Linked DNA regions of Homo sapiens. The protein of the gene in region 4 binds, or shares a complex with, the protein of the main gene of each other region. Each region holds a gene or a part of one and is shown on either strand. Other genes may lie near its edges.

The links.
Region 1: TCTN1 (region 4) and MKS1 share a complex: the UniProt entries of both Homo sapiens proteins name them as parts of the tectonic-like complex.
Region 2: TCTN1 (region 4) and TMEM67 share a complex: the UniProt entries of both Homo sapiens proteins name them as parts of the tectonic-like complex.
Region 3: TCTN1 (region 4) and AHI1 share a complex: the UniProt entries of both Homo sapiens proteins name them as parts of the tectonic-like complex.

The regions. Positions count from the first base shown.
Region 1 is NC_000017.11:58,216,256-58,224,415, reverse strand, and holds the start of MKS1 (tectonic-like complex member MKS1), read left to right. Parts: upstream 1-5,160; 5' UTR 5,161-5,185; coding exon 5,186-5,265; intron 5,266-5,686; coding exon 5,687-5,796; intron 5,797-7,670; coding exon of another isoform or gene 7,671-7,679; coding exon 7,680-7,750; intron 7,751-8,160. UniProt on the Homo sapiens protein: Component of the tectonic-like complex, a complex localized at the transition zone of primary cilia and acting as a barrier that prevents diffusion of transmembrane proteins between the cilia and plasma membranes.
Region 2 is NC_000008.11:93,750,103-93,758,115, forward strand, and holds the start of TMEM67 (meckelin isoform 1 precursor), read left to right. Parts: upstream 1-4,791; 5' UTR 4,792-4,812; coding exon 4,813-5,035; intron 5,036-5,675; coding exon 5,676-5,764; intron 5,765-8,013. UniProt on the Homo sapiens protein: Required for ciliary structure and function. Part of the tectonic-like complex which is required for tissue-specific ciliogenesis and may regulate ciliary membrane composition.
Region 3 is NC_000006.12:135,459,580-135,466,861, reverse strand, and holds part of AHI1 (jouberin), read left to right. Parts: intron 1-488; coding exon 489-1,048; intron 1,049-3,555; coding exon 3,556-3,737; intron 3,738-7,282. UniProt on the Homo sapiens protein: Involved in vesicle trafficking and required for ciliogenesis, formation of primary non-motile cilium, and recruitment of RAB8A to the basal body of primary cilium.
Region 4 is NC_000012.12:110,617,033-110,624,314, forward strand, and holds part of TCTN1 (tectonic-1 isoform 1 precursor), read left to right. Parts: intron 1-2,803; coding exon 2,804-2,924; intron 2,925-7,282. UniProt on the Homo sapiens protein: Component of the tectonic-like complex, a complex localized at the transition zone of primary cilia and acting as a barrier that prevents diffusion of transmembrane proteins between the cilia and plasma membranes.

The DNA.
Region 1 (8,160 bases), on a different chromosome or scaffold from region 4:
AGGTTTTTAACAAATGCAACAAGTTGTTTAGCATCACCACAGATTTAGAACGGTCTCATCACCCCTAAAATTCCCTCACACTGCCCTTTATACTCAATCCCTATCCCCACACCCAATCCTTGGCAACCACTGATCTATTTTCCATCTCTATAATTTTTCCTTTTTAAAGAATGCCATATCGAATATATTGTACAGTATATAGTCTTTTATGTCTGGTTTCTTTCACTGAGCATAATGATTTTGAGATTCATCCATGTGGTTTTATGTATCAGTAGTCACTTTGTTTTTATTATGGAGTAGTATTTCATTGTATAAATATTATACAAATTACACAATTTATTTAAACATTTACACATTGATGGACATTTGGACTGTTTCCCATTTTTACTATCATAAGTTGTTATACACATTTACATACAGGCCTTTTTGTGGACACATATTGTCATTTTTCTTGAGTAAATACTTAGGAGTGAGATTGCTGGATCATATGGTATGTAAATGTTTCACTTTATAAGAAATTTCCAGTTTCCCAAAGTGGCTGTACTATTTTGCATTCTGATAAGTAATTATGAGAGTTCCAGTTGCTCCACATCCTCACTAGCATTTAATATGGTCTAACTTTTAAATCTTAGCCATTGTAATAGGTGTGCTGTGGTATCTTTGTGTTTTTAATATGTAATGTTCTGATGATTAATGATATCAAGTATCTTTTCCTGGGTTAATGTCATTCACATATATTCTCTGGTAAGTTGTTCAAATCTTTTGACCATTTAAAAAATAAGATTGTTTGTATTATTATTACTGAGGTGTAAGACTATATATTCCAGATATAAGTCCTTTATCAGATAGGTGTTTTGCAAATATTTTTCAGTGTGTCTTGTCTTTTTATTTTCTTGACAGTGTCATTCGAAGAAAAGATGTTGTGCATTTTGATGACAATTGATTTTTTCTTCTATAGTTTGTACATTTTGAGTCCTAAGAAAATATTTACCCAACTCAGGATCTCAATGATCTGTCCCTATGTTTCTGTCTAGAAGTTTTATTGTTGTAACTATTACTTTTTAGGTCTATGATCCATTTTGCTTCAATTCATTAAATTGTGTAGGGTAAGGAGTTGAATTTTGTTCATCTTTGTATTTGTTTTGCTTATGGATTTATTATTCCAGCATTATTTGTTGAAAATGCTGTCCTTTCTCCATTGAATTACCTTGGGACCTTTGTCAAAAATTGATAGGCCATCTACGTACAGATCTATTTTGGACTCTTTTTTTTGTTTTTTGCTTTGAGACAGAGTCTTGCTGCGTCGCCAGGCTGGTGTGCAGTGGTGTGATCTCAGCTCACTGCAACCTCCACCTCCTGGGTTCAAGCGAGTCTCCTGCCTCAGCCTCTGGAGTAGCTGGGACTACAGGTGCATGCCGCCACGCCCAGTTAATTTTTGTATTTTTAGTAGAGACAGGGTTTCACCATGTTGGCAAGGATGGTTTCAATCTCCTAATCTCTTGATCTGCCCGCCTCAGCCTCCCAAAGTGCTGGGATTACAGGCGTGATCTTTTTCAAAATTCTTTTAACCATGTAACTCCTTTGCATTTCCATATAGATGTTAAGAGTCAGCTTGTCAATTCTACAAAGAAACCTGGTGGGATTTTTACTGAGATTTAGATCATCTTGAGGATAATTACCTTAATGATATAGATTTTTCCAATCCATGGACATGTTATAGTACTCTACTTTATCCAGGTCTTCATCTTACCAATGTTTTGACATTTTAAGTGTACAAGGCTTGCACATATTTTGTTAATTTTATGTTTTGTGCTTTTGGATGTTATTTTAAATGGCTGTGATTTTTAAAATTCAAGTTCAAATGGTTTGTTCCTAGTATATAGAAATACCATTGATTTTTGTATATTGACCTTGTATTCTATAACCCTATTAGTTCTGCTGGCATTTTTGTAGATTCTTTAGGATTGTTTAGGTTCATATTGTATGTAGATATACACAATTTTACTTCTTCCTTTTAAATTATGTTCACTGCAGCGTCGACCTCCTCGGCCCACATGATCCTCCCACCTCAGCCTCCCAAGTAGCTGGGGCCACAGGCATGCACCACCAAACCTGGCTAATTTTTAAATTTTTTATAAATAAAAAATATGTTGCCCCGGTGGGTCTAAACTCCTGGGTCTAAACTCCACTGTGTCTGGCCCAAGCCATTCTTGATATCATGGTACAAACTCCTTTGAGAATCTGATAAAAGCTATGAACTCTTTCTAGAAAAATCCCCCATTCAGAATTCTAGGGAAAGGATTCATAGACTTCTTGAATCCCACTCATGGATCTCAGTTTTAAGAATCCTGGTTCATGCAAATCAAGACCACGATGAGATACCATCTCACACCAGTCAGAATGGCAATTACTAAAACGTCAGGAAGCAATAGATGCTGGCGAGGCTGTGGAGAAATAGGAACACTTTTACACTGTTGGTGGGAATATAAATTAGTTCAACCATTGTGGAAGACAGTGTGCGGATTCCTCAAGGATCTAGAACCAGAAATATCATTTGACCCAGCAATCTCATTACTGGGTATATACCCAAAGAAATATAAGCCAGTCTACTATAAAGACACATGCACACGTATGTTTACTGGAGCACTAGTTACAATGTCAAAGACATGGTACCAACCCAAATGCCCATCAGTGATAGACTGGATAAAGAAAATGTGGTACATATACACCATGTAATACTATGCAGCCATAAAAAGGAATGAGATCATGTCCTTTGGAGGGACATGGATGAAGCTGGAAGCCATCATCCTCAGCAAACTAACACAGGAACAGAAAACCAAACACTGCATGTTGTCATTCATAAGTGGGAGTTGAACAATGAGAACACATGGACGCAGGGAGGGGAACACCACACACTGGGGCCTGTCGCAAAGTCTGGGGCAGGGGGAGGGAGAGCATTAGGACAAATAACTAATGCATTCAGGGCTTAAAATCTAGGTGATGGGTTGATAGGTGCAGCAAACCACCATGGCACATGTATACTTATGTAACAAACCTGCATGTTCTGTACATGTATTCCGGAATTTAAAGTAAAAAAAAAAAAAAGGACATTCTGACACATGCTACAATATGGATTAGGTATCTAAAACAGTCAAATTTCATAGAGAGAAAATGTAGAATGGTAGTTGCCAGGGGCTGGAAGAGGGGAATGAGGAGTTACTATTTAATGGGAACAGAGTTTCAATTTTCAAAAATAAGAAAGTAGTGGCGATGGATGGTGATGATGGTTGAAAAACAAGGTAAATGTACTTAAGACCAATAAGCTGAATATTTAAACATAAAAGGATCCTGATTCATAGAAATCAGTAAACAAAACATGAAAACTTAGTTTACCTATATAAAAATAATACTAATTATGGTTGCTTACACAAATAGCTTATATTTCCATAACGTGGTATAGAAACTATTTTGCATATAATTATGTCAGATTAACTTTGTTATAAGTTAGATTTGGTTATAAAATTAAACTAGAATCAGGCTCCACTTTATCAGCTGTTGTGCATGTGGCACAGATTGCCTACTCACAATTTTAAAAGGAAACATTGGAGAGACAATTTCTTAGGAGCTAGAAAGGTGCCTTTTGTTTTATGTTAAAATTATTTCCGGCCGGGCGCGGTGGCTCACGCCTGTAATCCCAGCACTTTGGGAGGCCGAGGCGGGCGGATCACGAGGTCAGGAGATCGAGACCATCCCGGCTAAAACGGTGAAACCCCGTCTCTACTAAAAATACAAAAAATTAGCCGGGCGTAGTGGCGGGCGCCTGTAGTCCCGGCTACTTGGGAGGCTGAGGCAGGAGAATGGCGTGAACCCGGGAGGCGGAGCTTGCAGTGAGCCGAGATCCCGCCACTGCACTCCAGCCTGGGCGACAGAGCGAGACTCCGTCTCAAAAAAAAAAAAAAAAAAATTATTATTTCCCAGGTTGGAAATGTGTGCGTTTATGGAATAAATTGGTAGGTGAGAGGCTGTGAGGCAAACTGGAAGGTGGTTAGGCTTCAAAAGACAGAAGAACTTGGGCTAGAATCCCAGTACTTTTACCACTTGCAAGCTAGCAAGTCCTTTAAACCCTGGCCTTCACGAACTTCATTTTTAAAGTGAATAAAAGTACCTTTTTGAGAGGCTTCTACAAGGATTTGGGACAATGCAAACAAAAGTGCTCAAGCTGCACTAGATCCTAAATAAATGGTGCTATTTATGGTGAGTCGGTGTTACACAACTAGTGGCTATGGCACCCAGAGCTTCCAATGCCAAATCATCAAACTGGCATGAGATTCCCGAGTTCAGGGGACAATTGCTTACTTTGTTGGAGGAGGACTAGATGTGAACAAGGCTGATAAATGTTGACATTCCCAAAGTGCCGGGACGCCAGACGTGAGGTTACAGCATGTCCTTCCTTTGCTAGTACAACGAAGCATGACTTGTGAATGTCACTTTTTTGGCTTTTCAGGAAGCCAGTGCAGTAACAAAGTGGCTTAATGATCCAAAACTAACATACACAAGGTAAGAATCAGTTCAATAATAACATCGTTTCCTTCCTTACTGTTGACTTCCTTGTTTTTTCTTTCTTTGCTCAGTGAATATCAACACAAAGACTAATAAATCTTCTGACACTTTTTTTGTCTTCCAAGAATATATTTTCTTGTCTGGCTAAGGGCCATCACCTTCCCTGACTCCTTTGGGAATAATGGGTGCATTTCTTACAGTCACATCACCCGATTTTCAGGCCAAAGTTTTCACGCGTTGGGTGGAAGGCAGTGTGGCATGGTGGAAAAGGTAGAGGGCGAAGACTCAGGCCACCTGGTCCCCGTCATCATTTCTGCATCTATCTGTCTATATGAAGTGGGCTGATGGCTGTGCCAGTTTCCTCATTTGCACAGCGCACGAGGTCCCGCTTTCGGTGAGCTTTTATCGCATACATGGTAAGCGGTGATCGGTAGGACCCCGGAGCCCTCTTGGGCGTTCGGCTTGGGCTGCACTTGCACTGTGTGGCCAACTGCGACCGTGGCGCCGTGACGGGAACGGCGGGTTGCGCGCGCAGCACCTCCGTCGCCTCCCGATCCAGCGTCTCCGTTGCCAGGAAAACAGAGCGGCGCGCTTTCCGGCGCAGTCGCGGCGCGTCGCAGCTGTCATGGCGGAGACCGTCTGGAGCACTGACACCGGGGAGGCAGTGTATCGCTCCCGGGACCCCGTGCGCAACTTGCGCCTCCGGTAGTCGCACCGCCCCAGCCCCGAGGCCCCATGCTTTTGTGTCCTTAGATCATTCCAACCTGAGCTCGGTGTTCTGAGGTCCCCACTTTCTGCTTACAATCCCGACCACTTCTCCGGGCTCCCCACTTCTTTCACTATCCGTACCCCCATCCACTCACAGCCTCTAAGAACCCCTTACAGACCTACCCAAGTCCATTCACGTCTTTGTTGCTCCCAGTTTCTCAAAGCCCTGTGCCCCCAGTACACCCTCTCCCCTTCATTCTTCCCCATAGGACGGCGCACCCACCCACCTCCTCTCCGTTGTCTGCACCCAGCACACCTTGGCAACCCTACCTCCTCTGTTTTGTTTCCCCCATCCTTGCTTTGTGTTCATCTCCTGGTTGCGTGTCTGGTAACGAATATTTTGGGCTTTTCTTGACAGAGTCCACCTGCAAAGAATCACATCAAGCAACTTTCTTCATTATCAGCCTGCTGCCGAGCTCGGGAAGGACCTCATAGACTTGGCCACTTTTAGGCCTCAGCCAACTGCCAGTGGGTGTTACGGTGGTGATGTGCCATCTAATACTAATTATGATACTAATCAGAATTGTGGCCAAATGTAGTGAGATAACAAATACTATACTTCTGATATGTTATAGAGTTGCCCGGCAACCTACATTCTATTTGTGGCTTTTTTTTTTTTTTTTTTTTTTTTTTTTTTTTTGAGACGGAGTCTTGCTCTTTCCCCCAGGCTGAAGTGCAGTGTCGCTATCTCCGCTCACTGCAAGCTCCGCCTCCCGGGTTCACGCGATTCTCCTGCCTCAGCCTCCCGAGTAGCTGGGACTACAGGCGCCCGCCACCACGCCCGGCTAATTTTTTGTATTTTCAGTAGAGGCGGGGTTTCACCGTGTTAGCCAGGATTGTCTCGATCTCCTGACCTCGTGATCCGCCCGCCTTGGCCTCCCAAAGTGCTGGGATTACAGGCGTGAGCCACCGCGCCCGTCCTATTTGTGGCATTTTTAAAAGAGAAAACGTGCCCCAAACCCTAAATACACATATAAACACTTTTAAAAACAATTTTTAAACTGGAGACTGCTTGCAAAATCTGCATATGATGTGCATGTATAGATCAACTGTGTTCTTGTGGTTTTCCTTATCTGGGAAACCAAAAGAATGAGGAGGAGAGGACAGAGTGGTTGTTGTCAGGTCACTAGTCTGTTTGCTTTTATTGTTTCTCTTTCTGTTCAGAGCTGTTCCTGGGCAAGAGTGTGGGCTCACAGGTTGTGAAACGTGTCTCTGAAAAAGGCATACCCAAGAGTGTATTAGATTAGATTTGTTTTCTTTGTTTTTGTTTTCGTTTTGTTTTGAGACAGAATCTCATTCTTCTGCTCAGGCTGGAGTGCAGTGGTATGATCATAGCTCACTGTAAACCTTGGTCTCCCAGGCTCAAGCCATCCTCCTGCCTCAGCCTCCCAACTAGCTGGGACTACAGACTCACACTCAGTTTATTTTTTTTTAAAGTTTTAGTAGAGAAAAGGTCTTGCTATGTTGTCCAGGCTGGTTTCAAATTCCTGGGCCCAAGTGATCCTCCCACCTTAGCCTCCCAAAATGTTGGGATTACAGGCGTGAGTCACTGCATTCAGCCAGATTTGGTTCTGTTAAAAAATCATTTATTTGCCTTCACTGTCCTCTCCTTACACTTGGTCTCCTAAATTTCAGTGTTTGTGATTCTACATATATGGCTTTAGAAATAGTAAAGATAAAAATGCCAGGGTTATTTTCTAGCAAATGCAGACAGTTGGGACTGAGGAAGGGCTGGCTATTCAGCTTATATCTAAATTTCAGTTTCTTATATCCAGTTAGATTAGATATTTCCTGGAGCGGGCTGAGCGCCGTGGCCCACGCCTGTAATCCCAGCACTTTGGGAGACCAAGGCAGGTGGATCACCTGAGGTCGGGAATTCAAGATCAGCCTGGCTAACATGGCAAAACTCCATCTCTACTGATAATACAAAAATTAGCTGGGTTGGTGGTGTGTGCCTGTAATCCCAGCTACTTGGGAGGCTGAGGCAGGAGAATCGCTTGAACCCAGGAAGAGGAGGTTGCAGTGAGCTGAAACAGTGCCACTGCACTCCAGCTTGGGTGACAGAGTGAGACTCCATCCCCCCCAGAAAAAAATTCCTGGGGGGTATTTTCTTTTATTCAAATTAGAGTCATGACTAAGACTTCCTGGGTTCTAATCTTGGCTTCTACTCATACTAACTCTCATATACAGCCTCTCTAGCATTTCTCTAGGTTGAGTGCTTACTAAATTGCTGAATTCCAGCTAGTTTTTGTGGCAAATATAAGAATAGGGACTTTGGTTATAATAAACCACAGAACAAGAAGTGGTGCTGGTTTGGCTCAAGCATTTGATTCACTCTGTTGTCTTTGGAGGTGGACACCGCCCAGAGGAAGACGAAGAGGAGGAGATTGTGATTGGGTGGCAGGAGAAGCTCTTTAGCCAGGTGAGCCAGTGTCTCTTGTCTTCTCTGTCTATTCCATCTGGTCTACCTCCACATGGCTGGTGATACATATTGCCAAAGTGATTTCCAGACAGGTTGTAACAGTTTATACTTTCCCCTGTTGTGTTTAAAGGGCATTGTAACATAGGGATTGCCACTACTCAGTTTTGTGATTCTGGGTGAGGAACTTTTCATCTCTGGGCTATATGCCATCTGTAATAGCAGACTTGGATTAGACTATCAGTCTGGTTCCTTTTAGCTCTAATGTTCTTGGTTCCCCTGCCATTCATTAGTTTAGTGTTGGTTATGAAAACATGTCAGATAGCATCAGTTCTGTAGAACTGATTTGATTAAACAGTTACAGAAGCAAAAGTTTGATGTATTATAATGATGTACACATCTCTGTTTCCTTA
Region 2 (8,013 bases), on a different chromosome or scaffold from region 4:
CCAAGATTTAGGAGGAAAGCCTTTTATACAAAACATAACTTTGAAGAAACAGATTATGCAACAGAGGGAAACTTTAAAACACCACTAGTAATGTATTCTAGGAAATAAGATATTGCAGCATGGAAGAATTCAAGAATGCCATAATTAAGCTATAGCCAGAAAACAAAAGAGAGCTCTTAGAAATTAAATTTATAATAGAAGAAATGAAAAGTTCAATTCAATGTTTGACAGATACGCGCAGGAAAATCTTCCAGAAAGTAGAACCAAACAAAACAAAATGAAAAATGAAGCCTGGGCGCGGTGGCTCACGCTTGTAATCCTTGCACTTTGGTAGGCCGAGATGGGTGGATCACCAGAGGTCGGGAGTTTGAGACCAGCCTGACCAACATGGAGAAACTCCGACTCCACTAAAAATAACAAAATTAGCCCTGCGTGGTGGCACATGCCTGTAATCCCAGCTACTCGGGAGGCTGAGGCAGGAGAATCACTTGAACCCAGGAGGTGGAGGTTGCAGTGAGCAGAGATCGTGCCATTGCACTCCAGCCTGGGCAACAAGAGCAAAAAAACTCCGACACACACACACACACACACACACACACACACACGCCGGGCGCGGTGGCTCACGCCTGTAATCCTAGCACTTTGGGAGGCCGAGGCGGGCAGATCACGAAGTCAGAAGATTGACACCATCCTGGCTAATACGGTGAAACCCCGTCTCTACTAAAAACACAAAAAATTAGCCGGGCGAGGTGGCGGGCTCCTGTAGTCCCAGCTACTCCGGAGGCTGAAGCAGGATAATGGCGTGAACCCGGGAGGCGGAGCTTGCAGTGAGCGGAGATCCCGCCTCCCGCCACTGTACTCCAGCCTGGGCGACAGAGCGAGACTCCGTCTCAAAAAAAAAAAAAAAGAAAAAAGAAAAGAAAAATGAAAACATAATCTGAGAAAATTAGAGGAACAGTCCAGGAAGTCTAGTATCTGAAAAATAGGGTGTCCAGAAGAAAAAAAAAACGGAGAGAAAGTCTTCAAAGGAATAATTAGTAGAAGAGATCATTTCCCAGTGTTAAAGGACATGAGTTTCTTTGCTGAATTGCAAAGTTACAACAGGTGTTCCACACAAAAGATGACAATGAAACATGCCCAGACACATCACTGTAAAATTAAGAAAAATGAGAAGGTGGGGCACAGAGAGGAACATCCTGAAGACTTCAAGAAAGTAAAAAACAAGTTACACACAAAAGATTAACAAATCAAAAGGGCACTAAGTGTCTGGAGATTGGGAATGAACACAGGGTTCACCACACAAAGTGCCCCAGATGTAAGATCTGAACCTCACTAATTCCCCTTTCTCACCACAACCTCCACTTCTGTTTTTCACCTTCTTTGTAATATTTTAATTCATTAATCTCATCTTGAACTTACTTGCCTTTAGCTTTTCTTTATTCCTGCCCAGAAAAGCACATCCAGAGATTCAAAGGCAACAATAAAAAGCAGGGCTTAAGAGTGTGGGCTCTGCATTATCCAAAGCAAACTTGTCACAGAGAAAACCTCAAAATCAGGGTTCAGCCTGAGTGGCCATGTGGGTTCTCAGCTTCATGCAGGAAGGAATTCAAGAGCAATCTGACAGAATAAAGTGAAAGCAAGTTTGTTAAGAAAGTAAAGGAATAAAGAGTGGCTACTTCATAGGCAGAGCAATGGCAAGGACTGCTAGACTGAGTATATTTATGGTTATTCCTTGATCATATACTAAACAAGGGGTGGATTATTCATGAGTTTTCCAGGAAAAAGGTGGGGAATTCCTGGAACGGAGCGTCCTCCCTTGTTAGACCATGTAGGGTAACTTCTCTAAGTGGGCATGGCAAGGGGCAAACTGTCAAGGTGCTGGTGGGAGTGTCTTTTAGCATGTTAATCCATTGTAATTAGCATATAATGAGCAGTGAGGATGGCCAGAGGTCACTTTGGTCACCATCTTGGTTTTAGCAGGTTTCAGTCCTCTTCTTTACCTATCCTGTTTTATCAGCCAGGTCTTTATGATCTTATCCTGTGAAATCAGTCCTGCCAACCTCCTATCTCAAACTAACACAGGAAAGAAATAAAATACTGTGTGTTCTCACTTATTAGTTGGAGCTAACATTGTGTACAGGTGGACACAAAGAAGGGAACAATAGATACTGGGTACTACTTGAGGGTGGAGGGTGAAAGGAGAGTATGGATCAAAAAACTACCTATTGGGTTCTATGCTTATCACATGGGTAAGGAAATAATCTGATCCCCAAACCCCCGAGACACTCAATTTACCTATATAACAAACCTGCACATGTACCTCTGAACCTAAATTAAAGTTTAAAACAACAACAACAACAACAAAAACCCGAAGAAAAGTATGGGCTCTGGTGTCAAATTACCAGGGTTAGAACCATGAATTAAGTGTGACCTTAGAAAGTCACTTATACTTTCTAAGCCTTGGTTATTTCATCTGTAAATTAAAGGTGATGATAACAGTCCCAATTTAGGATCAAATGAGATATTGCAATGCCGGACACATTAAAAGTGTCTCCATGGGACTAGCCCAAACTGAGCCTACTCTGTTGATAACAAAATGTCGTGTTACCTTTTAGATGTAACAGAGCCAAAAACTGAAAGTCATGTAGCCCAGTCATGTGCAATAGAAAAAGCCTGGACCTCTAACAACACCCAAAACCAGTGAATCCTTTCCTTGGAACCAAGACCGGGACATGACTGGAACCTGAACTTGGAACTCTTTCAAAAGTGTTGGGTCCATTTGCCTGGAGGATCAGGCCTAAAATCGGCCTCTACGTACCTTTTTCTAAATGGTCAAATTTCAAGTCCTCCATTCTGCCTGCCAAGACACATTCCTAAATTCTTCCCTTGGCTTTCCAAGCCCATAAGTTTACCCCAGACTCTAAATCAGGGAAACAGATTTGAATGCACTCCTATCTCCTTGCTGACCAGTTGTGCAAATAAAGACTTTTTTTCCTCAAAAGCTTGTGCCACATAGTATTGGCTTCTGTGCATGCATTGGATAGAGAGCTCATTTGCTTGATAACAAAAACAAGCTATTAATACCTATTATTTCTATTATTATCCATACCTCTAGCTCCCACCATGTTAAATATTCCTATAACTTTCATTTCTACCTTAAAATTTTCTTTATCCAATAAGTTTTCGCTTAGAAGCTATCTACCACAGGTATCTTCCTTTAATATCACAACCGTCTACCCAGCCACCCAAATCAGAAACCTGGAAGTTATCCTTGATTCTGTTTGTTTACTTCCTATGTCCAAATAATAAAATTCTTATAATTCTTCTTCCTGAATAGCTCCTTTATTCATCCTCTTCTGCCTCTCCCTTCCTCCATGGCTCCAATTTAGACTCTAGATTTCTACCTTAGCCTCGCAAGTGGTCTCTAACTCTAAACGTTTCCATATTTTTGTCCAGGATTTTTTTTTTTTTTTATATAGGGTCTCTGACATCCAGGCTGGAGTGCAGTGGCACGATCATAGCTTATTGCAGCCTTTGGGCTCATTGACCTCCTGGGCTTAAGTGGTTCTCCCGCCTCAGCCTTCCAAGCAACCGGGACCATAGGCATGTGCCACCCACCCAGCTAATTAAAATAAATTTTATTTGTAGAGGTGGAGTCTCACTATGTTGCCCAGGCTGGTCTTGAATTCCTGGGCTCAGACAATCCTTCCACTGTGGCCTCCCAAAATGTTAGGATTAGAGGTGTGAGCCACAGCACCAGGCTTAGATTCCTTTATTCACAAAAGGTGTAAAGGTGATCTCATTTTATATACATGTCAACTAAAGAAAAAAATCAGGCTTTTAAAGACTCAAAGTTAGTTTTATTCGGAGTCTTACTGAGGAATGCAACCCTGGAGAGTCTTTCAAAGAGTTTATGTTATACTGGTCCAAAGCAGCTGTTCTGCCCCCAGTTTCTACATCAAGGGATGGAGTTCTGCATGTGCTCAAAAGTTACATTAAACGTGCTCAGAAGTTACGTTGGAGCAAAATCTCATCAAAGTTTTGTTTGGAGACTACATCTGGTTATAGATTACAGAGGCATAATCATTAATCCTGTCACACGTTATCTTACGTACAGGAAGAGGCAAGAGCTAGGATCGCTGACTGTATCTTTTTAAAAAATGAAGTGATTCAAGCAACAGATGTGAAAACTTGTGCTCTATCCTACTTATTGTCTTCAGGGCATTCTTCTGGAGGACTGCGTTCAGTCACTGAGTCAGGGGCTTTGTGAAATTTCGCTGGCAACAGAATGAGCAAACATGGTTTCTTCCGTTTCGTACTTTGTCTCGCATACATGATTTCCTATGCTCAAACCTGGCAGGAAAGTTTTTTTATTTTTTCAGTCTTTGAGCTATAGTAATCCTTCACTGGGTTTTAAGTCAGTGGGGTTTTTTGACATCAAATTGTTAAACTACAAGTCATGTTTCCTTTAACGTGAAAATTACCTAGTCTGAATAAATTCTGATGTAACTATAACTCGACAAATTATGATATTTTCAACTTACGATGGGTTTATTGCGGGGAGGGGGCAGCCCTATCGTAAGTAGAGGAACTCTATACACGTTTGAAAATATCGCTGGGCTCCAGGGTTAACCGGTCTCTAACCCATTCTTTACTGGACCTGCCAACTTCGCGCAGGGTTGGTAACCTAGCAACCAAGCAACACGAGCAGTGACTTCCGGTACCCGGACTTGGGTTGTCCAATCAGCTCAGCGAAGCCGCCGCAGAGGCTGATGGGGGGCTGGAGGCTGTGAGGCTTCCAGCGTCGGTACCATGGCGACGCGCGGTGGGGCTGGGGTGGCAATGGCGGTTTGGTCCCTCTTATCCGCCCGGGCCGTGACCGCGTTCCTTCTGTTGTTCCTCCCTCGCTTCTTACAGGCCCAGACCTTCTCTTTCCCTTTCCAGCAGCCGGAGAAGTGCGACAACAACCAGTACTTTGATATCTCCGCCCTCTCGTGTGTTCCTTGTGGAGCTAACCAGAGGCAAGATGCCCGAGGTAAGACGGTTTGCGGTGGGCCCTGGCAAAAGTAACACTCCCGCCTTGGTCGGCCCCTAGTCCCCGTAAATGGAGTTTCACCATGTTGATCAGGCTAGTCTCGAACTTCTGACCTCAGGTGATCCACCCGCCTCCGCCTCCCAAAGTGCTGGGATTACAGGCGTGAGCCACCGCGCCTGGCCCGAATACATGTATATTGTTTAGTGACGTAGAAATGTAAAATTTCCAGCAGCAGTTAAGTAGTTTAATAGTTTAGTTATACTTGCACTTAAAATGGTAGCAGCATAATACCAGCTGTGTGCCAGTGTAAGACCTCTACGTATAATAACTAATTTTGTACTCATACTAACCCTGTGAGGTAGGTACCAATTTTTTTTCTCCATTTTATTGTAGAGGAAGCCAAGGCAGAGAGTTTAGTAACTTGTTCAAGGTCATGCAACTGAGTAGGATTACTACGATTGGAACTCAAGAAGTGTATTTCTGGATTTGAACCCAGGCAGTACTGCCTCCAGAATCCTGCTGTTAATCACTATACTGCTTCTCAAGATCTTCAGACTTATTAAAAGTTTCACTATCTGGGAACTTTATTTTTATTTATCAAGGATAAAATTGGCTTTTTTTTTTTTTTTTTTTTTTTTAGGAACTTCATGTGTATGTCTACCAGGATTTCAGATGATCTCTAATAATGGAGGACCTGCTATTATTTGTAAAAAGTGCCCAGAAAACATGGTGCGCATAATTTATTTTAAAATAACTTACCTGTAAAAAGTAGTAAGTTAAATATCTTTATTTTTCAAAATATAATTTAATGTTTAATGTTTCCCCACAGACTTTAAAATTACTATGCTAATTTTATTTTTACTAGAGTAAGTTTTGGGAGATCAGCGAAATTTCATGCAAACTTGGAGAAAACAGAAATGTATTTCTTTTAAAATCTGAAATCCAAAAACCACAAAGCTGTAAAAATTTAAGTTTTTGTTTTTACTCGTAGAATAACTCGGTTATGAAGAAAATTAGATGAATAAGGCATATATAGAGCAGTCTGGGATGTGTGCAATTTGGGATGTGTATATTCTTTTGACTGATGCAAGTGGAGTTGTCTTAGACCTACCATGTCAACAGTTTATATGATTATTGATGTTCATAATGATATCTAAGGTGTAATTATTTCATGAAATACCAATTGCATTAATAGATTAAATAATGTCTGTTTCTGTTTTGTTAGTAATTTCATTGTATCGTAATTTAAAAAAAATTAGTAAATAGTTACTATATATAATTCTCAACATAAATATATTTTTCAATCATGTTGGATAATTAAAAGTCTGTGTAACAGTTGTGACATTTACAGTAATGTTTCTTCTCATTGTCATATAAAAAATATTAATTCTGGGAATTTAATGTGAAGTTATCAATTGTCCCAATTTATAGCTATCTGTATTACTTGTAAGTCTGATTACCACTTTTTATATTACCATTTATTTTATATCTTTATAATAGATTATAATAGATTACCATTTATTTTATATCTTTGCAAATATTGATCCTAGCTGAATTACCCATGATAAAAAGCTGCTAATAAAAAGTGGTCTCGCAGCAGATTTCTTTTTCAGTGACATTGTTTAAGTTATTGTAATTTTTAAATTGTCCTGTATAGGCCAGGCACAGTGGCTCATGCCTGTAATCCCAGCAGTTTGGGAGGCTGAGCCTGGTGGATCATGAGCTCAGGAGTTTGAGACCAGCCTGGCCAATATGGTGAAACCCCATCTCTACTAAAAATACAAAAATGAGCTGGCTGTGGTGGCGCGTGCCTGTAGTCCCAGCTGCTTGGGAGGCTGAGGCAAGAGAATCGCTTGAACTCAGGAGGCAGAGGTTGCAGTAAGCCAAGATTGCACCATTGCACTCCAGCCTGGGTGACAGAGCGAGACTCTGTCTCAAAAAAATAAATAAAATATAAATAAATAAATAAATAAATAAATAAATAAATAAATAAATTGTCCTGTATAAATGTATTGCCAAATATAGGAGTATTTCTTGATAAATTCAGTCTTTTCAACCAAAATTTAAAATAATTTGTGGCATTATTTTTGTTCTTTATAAACTTTGGTTACATCTGTGTTTGTAATTATTGTGTTTTTTGCCCCAGGCTTTTCCTAAACCATATGATATAATAAGCCCAATTTTGAATGCTGTCATACTTTATCAAAAACCTTTACTAGGCCGGGCGCGGTGGCTCACGCCTGTAATCCCAGCACTTTGGGAGGCTGAGGCAGGTGGATCACGAGGTCAAGAGATCAAGACCATCCTGGCAAATGTGGTGAAACCCCATCTCTACTAAAAATACAAAAATTAGCTGGACGTGGTGGCACGTGCCTGTAGTCCCAGCTACTCGGGAGGCTGAGGCAGGAGAATTGTTTGAACCTGGGAGGCAGAGCTTGCAGTGAGCCGAGATTGTGCCACTGCACTCCAGCCTGGCAACAGAGCAAAGACTCTGTCTCAAAAAAAAAAAAACCTTTACTAGTACAAGCCATAAATGGATAGAAGAAAATATTCTCATAAATCAATTTTAACAACTATGTGTATAATTTATATATTTCATAAAATTTACCCATTTTGAATCATAAATGAATTTTTTTTTTTTTTGAAAGAGAGTATTACTGTTGCTCAGGCTGGAGTGCAGTGGCACGATCTCAGCTCACTGCAACCTCCACCTTTCTGGTTCAAGCCATTCTGGTGCCTCAGCCTCCCAAGTAGGATTATAGGCATACACCACCACGCCCAGCTAATTTTTGTATTTTTAGTAGAGACGAGGTTTCACCACATTGGCCAGGCTGGCCTCAAGCTTTGGCCTCAAGTGATCCACCCACCTTGGCCTCCCAAAGTGCTGGAATTACAGACGTGAGCCACTGTGCCTGGACTAAATTTTTTAGGTATTTGAATTTTTAAAAATTAGAATAGAGTTTTAGAACAGGTAAGAT
Region 3 (7,282 bases), on a different chromosome or scaffold from region 4:
TGATACACTTAGATTTACTGCAGGGTGATCTTAGAGCTGTAGACTTTTGCTTTTAGAGTGTAATTATGAAGCAAAATAAATGACCCATGTATATTTCCTATTGGGTGACCTGAAATGTCACATTCAATGGCTCTTTTAGCAATTTCTCGAATATCTATTAGAGTGTAGATCATGAGGAAAATATGTATGAGGAAAATAGCATTTGAGATTTGAGCAATTAATTCACTTCTTATAGGTCCTTAAGTACTTTTTTCCCATGTCAATTAACTCATTTAATCTGAAGTTACATTCAGAGATTACTAATCAAATTCTGGAAGCATAAATTATGAGAGTACTCATATGCTCTAAAATAGTGTCACTATGTCCAGATGAAAAACTAAATAATCCTCCCAATAATTCCACATTGTCAAATATTAATTATTAGGTTTTTCTTTATATAACTAATCTATGTGTAACTGAAACTTTGTTATCATGTCTTCTTTTCCTAGCCCGACACTATTAGAAGCAATCTTCCCCATATTAAAGAAACTACAAGTGATGATGTAAGTGCTGCTAACACTAACAACCTGAAGAAGAGCACGAGAGTCACTAAAAACAAATTGAGGAACACACAGTTAGCAACTGAAAATCCTAATGGTGATGCTAGTGTAGAGGAAGACAAACAAGGAAAGCCAAATAAAAAGGTGATAAAGACGGTGCCCCAGTTGACTACACAAGACCTGAAACCGGAAACTCCTGAGAATAAGGTTGATTCTACACACCAGAAAACACATACAAAGCCACAGCCAGGCGTTGATCATCAGAAAAGTGAGAAGGCAAATGAGGGAAGAGAAGAGACTGATTTAGAAGAGGATGAAGAATTGATGCAAGCATATCAGTGCCATGTAACTGAAGAAATGGCAAAGGAGATTAAGAGGAAAATAAGAAAGAAACTGAAAGAACAGTTGACTTACTTTCCCTCAGATACTTTATTCCATGATGACAAACTAAGCAGTGAAAAAAGGAAAAAGAAAAAGGAAGTTCCAGTCTTCTCTAAAGCTGAAACAAGGTATTTTTGCATTGATAAATGTAAAATATCCTCTTAGAAAAACACTGTTATTTTCAGGTTTTGAATATTATCTGTGGTTTAACAAAGAAAATTCTTACGCTTTTATTTGGAGACATTGTCACTAAGATAAGAACAGCTAACTTTTACATAACACCTTACTATGTACTAGGTGCTTTACGAGAATTAACTCATTTATTTCTTATGACAATCTTATAAGGAAAAGTAATATTCTTCCTATCTTGCTGATGAGGAAATGGAAGTACAGAACTAGTAAGAGGCTGAGCCAGATCCTTGTCCCTACCCTGAACTACTCACTTACATCTGCTTTCAAAGTAATAGAAACCTAATTACTTCCCCTTTTTTGAGTTACAAATACCTGTTTGGATATATAAATATAACTTTTTTTCTTATACAGATAACATTAGCTCATTGTAGAAAAACTATTCAAAGATAATCACTATTGGCAATTTGGTATTCTAATCTTTTTCTCTATATGATGCTTATATATGTATGTACTTCTATATAGAGTGTGAGGTTAAGTGAACATACACATATTTATATGTTTTCTATTTGGAGAAAACAATAAGGTAAAAATGCTTTTTAACTGCTATAATTAACTTTGTTCCCCCCTGCAGTTCTCCTCTAGAGAAACAACTTGAGGTGGGAACATTTTATATGTGACTATTCTTTGGCATTCAGCATCAATTTCCCCTAAAGCCCTCAGCCAAAAATAATTCCCCTCTTTTCAAAAGCTAGGTGACCGGTGGTAATAAAGATACGGCAAACCAAGTTGCTGCAGGGACATGATAGTATATATTAGTTATCTGTTGCTCCATTAAAAAGATGATCCCAGAATTTAGCAGCTTAAGACAACAAGCATTTACTGTCTCAGAGTTTCTGTGGGCCAGCAATCTGAGAGTGACTTCACTGGGTGTCTCTGTCAATCACAGGTTGCAATCAGGATGTTAGCTGGGACTGAAGTCACCTCAAGCCTTGACTGGGGGAGGATCTGTCAAGTGACATAGCTGTTAGAAGGCCTTAGAAGATCCAGTTCTAAGCTCATTCATGTGGTTGTTGGTAGGCCTCAGGTCCTGACTGGCTTTGGGCCCGGTATACCAGTTCCTTGCCACATGGACTGTCTCCATATGGTCTACACACAACATGGCCACTTGCTTCCCCAGACCAAGGGCTCTGAGAGAGTGAGAGCAAGACAGAAGTCACAGTCTTTTTGGAACCTAATCTTATAAGTGGCATTCATTACTTTTATCATATTCTGTCTGTCAGAAGTAAGTCACTAGTCCAGCCCACACACAAAAGAAAGGGGATTACACAAAGACATGAATATGAAGAGGTGGGGATCAGTAAGGTCCATCTTAGAGGCTTCCTACCATAGTATACTATAAATCTTCCTTCTCATAGCTACCACCTCTGTGGTAGACTGGTAAGCCATAGTCAATATGAAATAGGGTTAGCTCATGAATTTTTAATAACACGTGACAGTGGCACGCAAAGGGTAGCTGTTCTCCTTAAAGAACAGGGTTTGGTGATGTGATCAAATAGAATGGCTTTCTGGAATGACTAATTTGAAATATTTCTCTAGTCTTACTTTCCTCAACCCATTTTTTTTTTGAAATATGACTAAAAATATTGGAAATTAATTTTTTATTATTTACATGCAGATTTTTTACTAGATACATTAAAATGTTAGTAGGCTGGTTTTTCTTTAAACTCAGTATGCTTCTGGGTTGCTACTTCTTACCATTTACTAGTTCATGTGATATAGATTTTAATTTTAGTAATAGCCTTCTGAAAATGTAGTGACTCACCAAGGAATTAATTTTTACCTAGAAATCCATGCCTGAGCAACATAGTGAAAGTCCATCTCTACAAAAATTACAAAAATTAGCCAGGTATGGTGCCTGTAGTCTCAGCTATTTGGGAGGCAGAAGTGGGAGGATTGCTGGAGCCTGGGAGGTTGAGGCAGCAGTGAGCTATGATTGTACCACTGCACTCCAACTTGGGCGACAGCGCGAAACCCAGTCTTAAAAAAAAAAGAAAAGAAAAAAGAGAAATCAAAAGTTGTGCATGTGAAGCCTCTTGAAGACGGAACAAACCTAGAATACTTTTTATACCTTTAAATAAGGTAATTTAAAAATTGGTTGATAAATCATTTACTTGGCAGCAGGGTGGGCATGCTTTGATAAGTCCTATGTAAAGAGAGATCAATTGCTCATAAAATATTAATACAATTTCCCTTTCCCCTGGGGTTTAGAGCTCAGTTTTAGTTGAATCGTGTAACTCCTCACGAAGTATAAAATACCACCTATGATACCTATTTGACACTTAACCATTTTAGTGTATAAGAAAATACATGCATCTCTCAAGAGACAATAATAGTGATTTTAGGATTATCTTTGCTCCTATTTACTGTTCACTCTGTTGCATCATGAATAATAATTATAATGATAATATATCTGTAATGGCTGATACTTGGATTATATTTGTAGTACATTGACCATCTCTGGTGACACAGTTGAAGGTGAACAAAAGAAAGAATCTTCAGTTAGATCAGTTTCTTCAGATTCTCATCAAGATGATGAAATAAGCTCAATGGAACAAAGCACAGAAGACAGCATGCAAGATGATACAAAACCTAAACCAAAAAAAACAAAAAAGAAGACTAAAGCAGGTTTGCTATACAAATTAAATGAAAAATTGTGTATGTTGGTAGAAATAACTTGATTCTAGGAATTTTAGCCCTTTAAAACTGATGGGTATACTTGAAAATAATTCAATATAGGATATTTGGTACTTGTTCTTGAATTCATCTAGATTAAAGCACACATGTATTTGTAGCTGTAGGTCTCTGATGAGTTTGTATCACTTGAGTCTTCTCTGATTTTTTTTATTTTTGAGATGGTGTCTTACTCTGTCTCCCAGGCTGGAATGCAGTGGCACGATCTCGGCTCATTGCAACCTCCACCTCCCGGGTTAAAGCGATTCTCCTGCCTCGGCCTCCTGAGTAGCTGGGATTGCAGATGCATGCCACCATACCCGGCTAATTTTTGTATTGTTAGTAGAGACGGGGTTTCACCATGTTGGCCAAGCTGGTCTCGAACTCATGACCTCAAGTGATCCACCTGCCTCAGCCTCCCAAAATGCTGGGGTTACAGGCATGAGCCACCATGCCTGACCTTCTCTGATTCTTGTCATACTTTAAATTCAACTCTAAAATGATACTGACTTTGTAGTTGCTATTGGGTCATAGAGGATTTCTTCTTTAAACCATTGAGTTTACATCCTCTAAATGGTTAGGACTCAGTTGTTGAAAGCTATAAATGGTCAGCAGCCAATAAACATTTCTGATGTTAAGGCTGCATCCTGTCCAACATGGTATCCTCCCAATTCGTCAGCCTAATACCACTTCTTTCCTTTCTCAACTTTTCTCTTTGCCTTGTTGATTTCTGTCTTCTTCTTTTCTTGTTTGTTTTCTCTTATTTTTCTTTACATGTTCTTTTCTACTCATACATCCTTTTTTAGTCTTTCAGTTTCCATTTGATTGGCCAAAAATTGGGATTAAAATGGGCAATTTTAGATTTTATAGTACTTATTCATTAGAAGATGTAAGTGATGATGTTTTGTGGTTTCTATAATTAAAATTTTAAAATCTTTTGTTGAAGCATAATGTGTATATAGATATATATAGAAAAGCACTAAGCAGTATACTTGTTTTATGTGTTTCTATATATATAAAGCACTAAGCAGTATACTCATATACATATTTTTAAAGTTTTTTTCACAAACTGAACATACCTATAAAATCATTACCTAAATTTGGAAACAGAACATCATTAGCACCCAGAAAAATCACCTTCCCGTTAGTTGCCCTGTGGGAGTAACCACTACCTGGACATCTAACAGAGTTTATTTTTGCTTATTTTTATACTTTAATATGAATAGAATGATAAATACTGTGCTCCTTGTGCCTGACTTTTTTTACTCAATGTTAATTTTGTAAGATTTATACTACTGTTGCTTGCATACAGTTGAGCTTATTCATTCTTAATTCTGTTTTTGTATTATTTAGATATCCATTGTGTGAATATACCACAGTTAATTTGCCTATTTTATTGATGGTCATTTGAGTTGTTTCTAGTTTTAGGCAATTATAAGTAAAGCGGTAATTCACATTGCAGTCACGTATTTGGTAAGCACATGCATACCTTTATCTTGGGCATATTGTTAGGAGTAGAATTGCTGTCATAGATTATGTATATTTTTTGCTTTAATAATTACTTCCAGTTTTCCAAAGTTGGTTTACCAGTTGACACTAGCAGTGTTTGAGAGTTCCAGTCACTCCACATCTTTACCAACATGTAATACTGTTTTTTAACGTTTTAGTCATTCTTAGGAGTGACTAAATTTTCCTCATTCTTCAGGAATGTATAGTGATATTCATTTTGGTTTTAATTTTATTTCCATGGTAACTATTGAAGTTGAGTGTTTTCATGTTTATTAACTACTTAGATTTTGACATTTGTAAATATATTCAAGTTGTCTGCATTTTTTAAAACACAGAATTGTCTTTTTCTAATTGATTTGTAGTGATAGGTTTATATACCTCAATATGAGATTATTCTCAGATATAAATACCTACCCACATTTATATCGCAAATGTCGTCCTACTCTGGTTTGATTATTTCTCTCTCATTGGTGTCTTTTGAAAAACAGAAATTTTTGTATTGTCCAGTTTATCCATTTTTTTCCTTTGATGGTAAGTGCTGTGATTTAAGAAATCTTTCCTAAGTTCTGAAGATATTTTTCTAAAAGTTTTATTCTAAAAGTTTTACTGTTTCTGTTTTACTTTCACATTTAGATATGCAGTTCATCAGGAATTGGTTTATGTTTATGATAGGAAGCAGTGATCAAGATATCCATGTGAATATATATTATGATTGACCCAGTACCATTTACTGAAGAGAGTGTCTTTTTCCCTCTGTGTTGCAGTGTCACTTTTCCCATAAATAACATGACTGTGTTACATGTGGATCAGTTTTTGTAGTCTCTATTCTTTTAAATTAGACAGTTTGTACCAACACTACCATGTCTAAATACTGTAGCTTTTTAATAGGTCTTGCTATTTAGTATTATACTCTAGGTTTTTCCTTCTTCATCTGCATTGTCTAGGCTATTCTTTACTTTGCATTTCTGTATGGATTTTAGAAGAGCTTCTCCATTCTCCCTCTTCCTTTTTACCCTCATTCTGTCTTGCAAGCTGTGATTTTGATCTAGACTGGGTGAATCTAAAGAGTCACAGCATAACAACTCTCTAAAGAGACTTGACATTTTTACACAGTATTGATTCTCAGGCTATGAATTTGGTATGCACTTCCATTTATTTGCATCTTATTTAATATATCCCAGCAATATACATTTCAGCAGAATCTCTCCTTAGATTTATTCCTGGGATTTGATGTTTCTTAATGATATTATAAATGGCATTTAAAAAATTTTTGTTTTGTATTTGTTGCTGGTACATATATGTAGAAATGTATTTAAAATTTTTTAACATTGTGTCCATTGATTTGCTAAATTCACTTATTGCAAGAGTTTATTTATTTATTTATTTTTGAGACAGGGTCTTGCCCTGTCACTCAGGCTGGAGTGCAGTGGCGTGATCTCAGCTCACTGCAACTTATACTTCCCAGGTTCAAGCGATCTTCCCACCTCAGTCTTCCAAGTAGCTGGGACTACAGGCATGCACCACCATTCTTGGCTAATTTTTGTAGAGACAAGGTCTCACTACATTTTCCAGGCTAGTCTCAAACTCCTGGGCTCAAGCAGTTCTCCCACCTCAGTCTCCCAGAGTGCTGGGATTACAGATGTGAGCTATCGCGGCCCACAGAGTTTATTCTTACATTGTTTGGATTTTTCTACATATGCAATCATGTAATACGTTAATAACGATAGTTTTATCGCTTCTTTTTCAGTCCTTATGCCTTATCATTTTGCTTGCCTTGATACAAATCAAGATTTAATCTCTTTATTATCAATCTTTTTTTTTTTTTTTTTTACTTCTGTCAGCTATTTGATATACTGTAGTTTTTGAGGGATGTGTCTATTTCATCCAAATTTTGCATTTCTATAGCATCTGAAAGGCTGTCCCATGTTTTCATTCATGGTATTGGCAGTTTGTTTTCTCTCAATTTCTTGATCAGCCTTAGGATTTTAAAT
Region 4 (7,282 bases):
ATTAAACACTATTGCTTCGTCCTTAGTAGTCTTACAGCTGCCTATAAGGGCTTTAAGTTTTGAAAACAAAGCAAGATAGTAATTTTAAACATACAGGGAACCTAAAGCACTTTTAATTTTTTACATTAGCGTGCATAAGTTGTGTCATTTTACTAGGCACATAGAAGAGTTCTCAACTAGAGAGAAGCACTGTAAACTTTAGGGGGAAAGCTTTTGTGTCTTAGACTAAGAAATCATGGCATATTAACAAAACCTTCCCCTTCACCTCACACATTTTTTTTGCAGAGTGCATTATACCTTTTACGGGGTACTATTTTTTTTTTTTTAATTGCCCAGGCTGGAATGCAGTGGCGCAGTCTCAGCTCACTGCAACCTCCACCTCCCAGGTTCAAGCGATTCTCCTGCCTCAGCCTCCCAAGTAGCTGGGATTACAGCCGCGCGCCACCATGCCTGGCTAATTTTTTTGGTATTTTTAGTAGAGATGGGGTTTTACCACGTTGGCCAGGCTGGTCTCAAACTCCTAACCTCAGGGGATCCACTCTTCTCAGCCTTCCAGAGTGCTAGGATACAGGCGTGAGCTATGGGATACATTTTTCTTTTCTCTTTTTCTTTCTTTTTTTTTTTTTGAGATGGAATCTTGCCCTGTCACCCAGGCTGGAGTGCAGTGGCACGATATCGGCTCACTGCAAACTCTGCCTCCTGGGTTCAGGCTATTCTTCTGCCTCAGCCTCCTGAGTAGCTGGGACTACGGGTGTGTGCCACCATGCCCGACTAATTTTTGTATTTTCAGTAGAGACGGGGTTTTACCATGTCGGCCAGGCTGGTCTGGACCTCCTGACCTCGTGATCCACCTGCCTCAGCCTCCCAAAGTGCTGGGATTACAGGCTTGAGCCACTGCATCCGGCCGCTGTGGGGTACATTTTTCTAAAGCTCCTTTTTATCGTGAAATAATTCATACGTACAAATAAGAATGTTGGGTGGACACTAGCAGCATTTGCTTCAGATTCCTTTTTTGTTAATTTTGTTTTTTGGCTTGAGATCTTTTTTTTTTTTTTTTTGAGATGGAGTCTCACTCTGTCATCCAGGCTGGAGTGCAGTGGTGTGATCTCAGTTTACTGCAACCTCTGCCTTCTGGGTTGAAACGATTCTCCTGCCTCAGCCTCCCTGAGTAGCTGGGATTACAGGCGCCCACCACCATACCTGGCTAATTTTTGAATTTTTTTTTTGAGATGGAGTCTCGCTCTGTCGCCCAGGCTGGAATGCAGTGACGCGATCTCGGCTCACTGCAAACCCCGCCTCCTGGGTTCACGCCATTCTCCCGCCTCAGCCTCCCCAGTAGCTGGGACTACAGGTGCCCGCCACCACACCCAGCTAGTTTTTATATTGTTAGTAGAGACGGGGTTTCACCGTGTTAGCCAGGATGGTCTCAATCTCCTGACCTTGTGATCCGCCTGCCTTGGCCTCCCAAAGTGCTGGGATTACAGGCATGAACCACCGCGCCCAGCCTAATTTTTGTATTTTTAATAGAGACAGGGTTTAACCATGTTGGCCAGGGCAGTCTCAAACTCCTGACCTCAAGTGATCTGCCCGCCTCCCAAAGTGCAGGAATTACAGATGTGAGCCACCGTGCCTGGTTTGAAATCTTCTTTTGAAAAAGAAAACGTTACAGATAAGATTGAAGGTTGATCTTACTTCTTCCCTTCCAGCAATAATTGCAACTATAAATTCATTCTCTATTTTTTAAAAGGGTTTTCTTGTCCTTATTTGACAGAATAAGATAGAGAATTAAAAATCCAGATAATCATCTTTGTTGCAAAGCGGCAAAGAAAAATCATCCTTATTAATGATTAAAAGTTGACCAGGAGTGGTGGCTCACACCTGTAATCCCAGCACTTTGGGTGGCTAAGGCTGGCAGATCACTTGAGGTCAGGAGTTTGAGACCAGCCTGGCCAACATGGTGAAACCCCGTCCCTAATAAAAATACAAAAAAAAAAAAAAAGTTGGGCGTGGTAGTGCATGCCTTTAATCCCAGCTACTCAGGAGGCTGAGGCAGGAGAATAGCTTGAACCCAGGAGGTGGAGGTTGCAGTGAGCCAAGATTGCACCATTGCACTCCAGCCTGGGCAACAAGAGCCGAAACTCCTTTAAAAAATAAATAAATAAATAAAATAATTAAAAGTTGTGAGGTGGGGGAGATTCCTACCCCGCCCTCATACCTTATTGTCTAAATCACCAAAGACATTCTGAGCACCTGAGCCGGTATGATTCTTGGCCAAGGGTCTGTGAATATGAGTTCAGCTTTAAAGCAGCAGGTTATACGTGAAGAGGGGGCAAGATTGAAAAGTCTCTTTCCTGAAGGTTTAAGTGGGCCCTTCCTCTGAATCGTAATCTCTAGAGGAGGGGCTTAAGGACTTTGGAGTTTTAAACTGGTGGTTCTTATGGTCAGGCAAATGGTTTAGGGGTGCTTGTTCTTAAACTTGTCTAATTATAAGCATCACCTGGAAAGTTTCTGAAAACTGCAAATGCCTGGGTTTCATATTCAGCTTACGAAATCAGCATCTCTGTAGGCAAAGCACTAACAGAACTTTCCAAGCGAGTCAGATCATTAGCCACTTTGGGGAAACCTCTGATTGTGGGATGCTCAAACTGACTCATTTCCACTTCACAAATTTCCCCCAAAGTGCAATAGGAAAAATAAAATGGATCTTTTTTATGAAATTGACTTATGGTACACTGTGGTGGCAGGGGGCAGTCACCACCTGCTGATGGTGATGTTCTGGATCCTACCCCTCTTTTTTCTGCAGTTGCTGTTCTCTGTGTCTGTGACTTATCCCCAGCACAGTGTGACATCAACTGCTGCTGTGATCCCGACTGCAGCTCCGTGGATTTCAGTGTCTTTTCTGCCTGCTCAGTTCCAGTTGTCACGTAAGTTTACGTATGACACATGCAATTTTGAAAAAATTTGACCAGGATAATACAATTTGGAGAAAGGGAAAACTTTCCCAGGCTTAAAAACCCAAACCTGATTTCCAGTGTTTTACGTCGTTCTGAAGCCATACCGTCCAAACAAATATGTAAAAAAGTAGCTATCCCTGGCAGGGCGCAGTGGCTCACGCCTGTAATCCCAGCACTTTGGGAGGCTGAGGTGGGTGGATCACGAGGTCAGGAGATTGGGACCATTCTGGCTAACACGGTGAAACCCCGTCTCTACTAAAAATCCAAAAAAATTAGCCGGGCATGTTGGCGGGCACCTGTGGTCCCAGCTACTCGGGAGGCTGAGGCAGGAGAATGGCGTGAACCCGGGAGGCAGAGCTTGCAGTGAGTGGAGATTGCGCTACTGCACTCTAGCCTGGGTGACAGAGCGAGACTCAGTCTCAAAAAAAAAAAAAGTAGCTATCCCTTATTTGCATTCAGCCAGGTGACTGTGCAGGCAAAAGAGAAGAGAGAATATACATTAAAATAATGTAATGAAACCTCTGTGTTTGAAGATTGAATTACATTTCAATTTGAGTTGTAGACAGTGGTCACATTTTTTGTATCAGTGAATTAGTATAGCCTAGGGTGAAAAGTGCATTTTAATTTCACAGCTTTTGTTGTGGACATAGTATTTGTAACAAAAAATTAGATAAGAAATCTGTACTTTTCTGATATGTAAATCTACCAGGAATTCTCACAGTTCGCATTGTATAGAACAATGAAAAATGACATTTCCAGCTGATTATAAGGTAAATAAATAATCTGTTCTGAATGATCTCTTATAATTGAGGTTTCAAGGCTTCTTTTTTTTTTTTTTTTTTATGAGATGGAGTCTCGCTCTGTTGCCCAGGCTGGAGTGCAGTGGTGTGATAGTGGCTCACTGCAACCACCGCCTCCTGGCTTCAAGCAATTCTCCTGTCTCAGCCTCCTGAGTAGCTGGGACTACAGGTGCACGCCACGATGCCTGGCGTATTTTTAGTAGAGGTGGGGTTTCACCATATTGGTCAGGCTGCTCTCGAACTCCTGACCTCAGGTGATCCGCCCTCCTTGGCCTCCCAAAGTGCCGGGATTTCAGGTGTAAGCCAACGCGCCCAGCTTCAAGGCTTTTTGAAAAACTAGGAGCACTTAGAAGAGGCTCATTAATTCAGGATGGGACCAACTTAGTATTCAGAGATAGCTAATTTAAATTTAGCCTTATAGCAAGTTTTAGCAATTGATACTTGATAGGTGAACCCTTTTAAGAAGTACAATGGGTTTTTCCTGTGAGAAACTATTTTATTGACCAATGGGATTTTGAGCCTATTTCTAGTATTGTAAAAATGCTCAGAGAACAGGGCAATGTAGTCAGATTAATTTTCTGGCTACCTGGCCTGTAGCATGTTTCAGTATTTGTTGAAAGTCATTCTGTTTTCCTCCCTTTAGTAAATACAGGAGCCTGAAAGTGACATTTTTGCTCCAACTTGGGGCTATTTTTTTTTTTTTTGAGACAGAGTCTTGCTCTGTTGCCCAGGCTGGAGTGCAGTGCCTCCATCTCGGCTCACTGCAACCTCTGCCTGCTGGCTTCAAGCAATTTTCCTGCCTCAGCCTCCCAACGAGCTGGGACTACAGGCGTGTGCCACCATGCCCAGCTAATTTTTTGTATTTTTAGTAGAGACAGGGTTTCACCGTGTTAGCCAGGCTGGTCTTGAACTTCTGACCTCGTGATCCGCCCACCTCGGCCTCCCAAAGTGCTGGGATTACAGGCGTGAGCCACTGCGCCTAACCTGGAAGATCTCTTTTCTCCTTAACCATTAGTACCTAGTAGAGCTCCTGCCACATAGTGGGCCCTCGTTAAGAATGAGTTGAATTGGCTGGGCATGGTGTCTCACGCCTGTAATCCCAGCACTTTGGGAGGCTGAGGCATGTAGATCACTTGAGGTCAGGAGTTTGAGACCAGCCTGGCCAAGATAGTGAAACCCCGTGTCTACTAAAAATACAAAAATCAGCTGGGCGTGGTGGTGGGTGCCTGTAATCCCAGCTACTCAGGGGGCTGAGGTGGGAGAATCGCTTGAACCTGGGAGGCAGAGGTTGCAGGAGCCAAGATCGCACCATTGCACTCTAGCCCGGGCAACAAGAGCGAAACTCCATAAAAAAAAATAATAATAATAATAATGAGTTGAATGGATGAATGAATTTCTCCCTTCCACCTCTAACTGATTTCCTAGTGTCCCTTGTTGACTTCCTCTACCATTAGTCTTTTAGGCCGACACCAGGCCAAAAACCTGGAGGCTCCCCTGACCCTTGCCTCTTCCTTTCCTTTTCCTGTCTCAGCAGTCTTTCCTTTCTCCCAACCTTTCTTGAGTACCTCCTGAATGCCAGCACCAGGGACATAAAGATGAGTTAGGCACTCTCCTGCCTTCAAAGAGCTTACCGTCGAGTAAGGGAGACAGAGGAGTGGATGGCAGTTTCTACATCAAGCACGATGAGAAGGCAGAGGAATGGCATCTAACTCAGCCCCACTAAGGAATGCTCCCCAGAAAACAGGAGCTGAGCTGGGTCCTGAAGGACACGTGGAAGATGGTCAGCATGGACTGAGGGGAAGGGCATTCCAGGCAGAGGGAACTGCGTGGACAGAGATGGGGGGATGTGGGATGGCCTGCTTAACTGCAGGTAACTCAGTGTGGCCAGAAGAGGGGTGGGGTGAGAGGAGTGTAGGAAAGAGATCAGGGGTCAGGTCCCCAGGGGCCTTGTGTATATGCTAAGGGGTTTGGACTCTGTCCTGAAGTCCACAGGGCCTGGGTTGTAAGAGGATCAGATTCCCATCTTATGTAATTCTGCAGCATCATATGCAGTGGATCACAAGGCCAAGCCTGGTGGCAGAGAACCAAGTAAAAAGCTATTGCAGATGCGGATTAACGGTTTCCCTCCCCATCCTCCCCAAAAGCTGTGACAGTGGGGCTAGGGAGAAGTATCTAGATCTGATGATGATACTGAAATACTGCACAGGATTGGGGAGGTGGCTGACTGGAGGGGAGTAAGGAATCCCATTCTGTGGAGCCTTCCATCACTCTAGCCCTCGTGGTCGTCCATCCCTGCTCCTGCTTTATGAGCTCACACCTCATCCTGTCAAGCACTCACTAAAAGACCTTCAGAAGTTCTCATTATCTATAGGCTTCTTAGCCTGGATTCAGATTCATTCCCACCTTCTTTCAGAGCCTATCACCTGCTACCAGCCATCTCAAATCCACTCCAGCCCAACCTTGGTACTCAGAGTTTCCCAAAGACCATGAGTCGTTACCCAGCCTTGGCCATTGCCGTTCTTGCACTTGGATTTGCTTCCCATTCCTACTGTCTGTCTGATTTCTACTTATCCTTTAAGGCCCAGTAAAAACGGAATGATAATATCCAGTCTTGGCAAGGGTACAGGGAAATAGGCACTCTTACTACAGTGTTGGTGAGAATGTATATTGTGCCCTTCTAGAGGGCAATCTGGGAGTGTGTCTCAGAAGCTTTAAATAATGTTACCTGCCTTTTGGTTTAGCAGTTCCAGTTCAGGAAACATATCCTAAGGAAACAACTGGAGACAGTCATAAAGATGTATGTATAAGGTTGTCATTATAGCATTACATATAATTGGGGAAAATTAGAAACCTAAACCTAAACCAACGATCATAGCTCGCTGTAACCTTGCTCCTGGGCTCAAGCAGTCCTCCTACCTCAGCCTCCCAAGTAGTTAGAACTATAAGCATCTGCCAGCATGCCGGGCTAATTTTTTCTTTGTTTTCTGTAGAGATCGGGGTCTGTGTTGCCCAGGCTGGTCTTGAACTCCTGGCCTCAAGTGATCCTCCCCAGCCTCCCAAAATGCTGGGATTACAGGCATGAGCCACGGTGCTTGGGCTGTACCATATCCATATCTATATTGGTTAAACAAATTGGGGTATTAATAGGCTGGTATACGATGATGAAGCCACTTATAATATTGTAAGTGCATATTAGGCATTATATATTAAGTGAGAAAAGCCTTAAAACAGTATGTAGAATATGGTCCCATTTTTATTATGACTATCTCTATACTATTATCTGTCTGTCCAGCTATCTGTCTATTTTTTTTTTTTTTTAGAGACAAAATCTCACTTTGTGGCCCAGGCTGGTCTTGAAATCCTGGCTTCAAGTGATCCTCCTGCCATGGCCTCCCAAAGTACTGGCATTGTAGGCGTGAGCCACTGTGCCCAGCCTCTATGTTTTTTTGAGATAGGTCTTGCTCTGTCACCCAGGCTGGAGTGCAGTGACACGATCATAGCTCACTGTAACCTTGCTCCTGGGCTCAA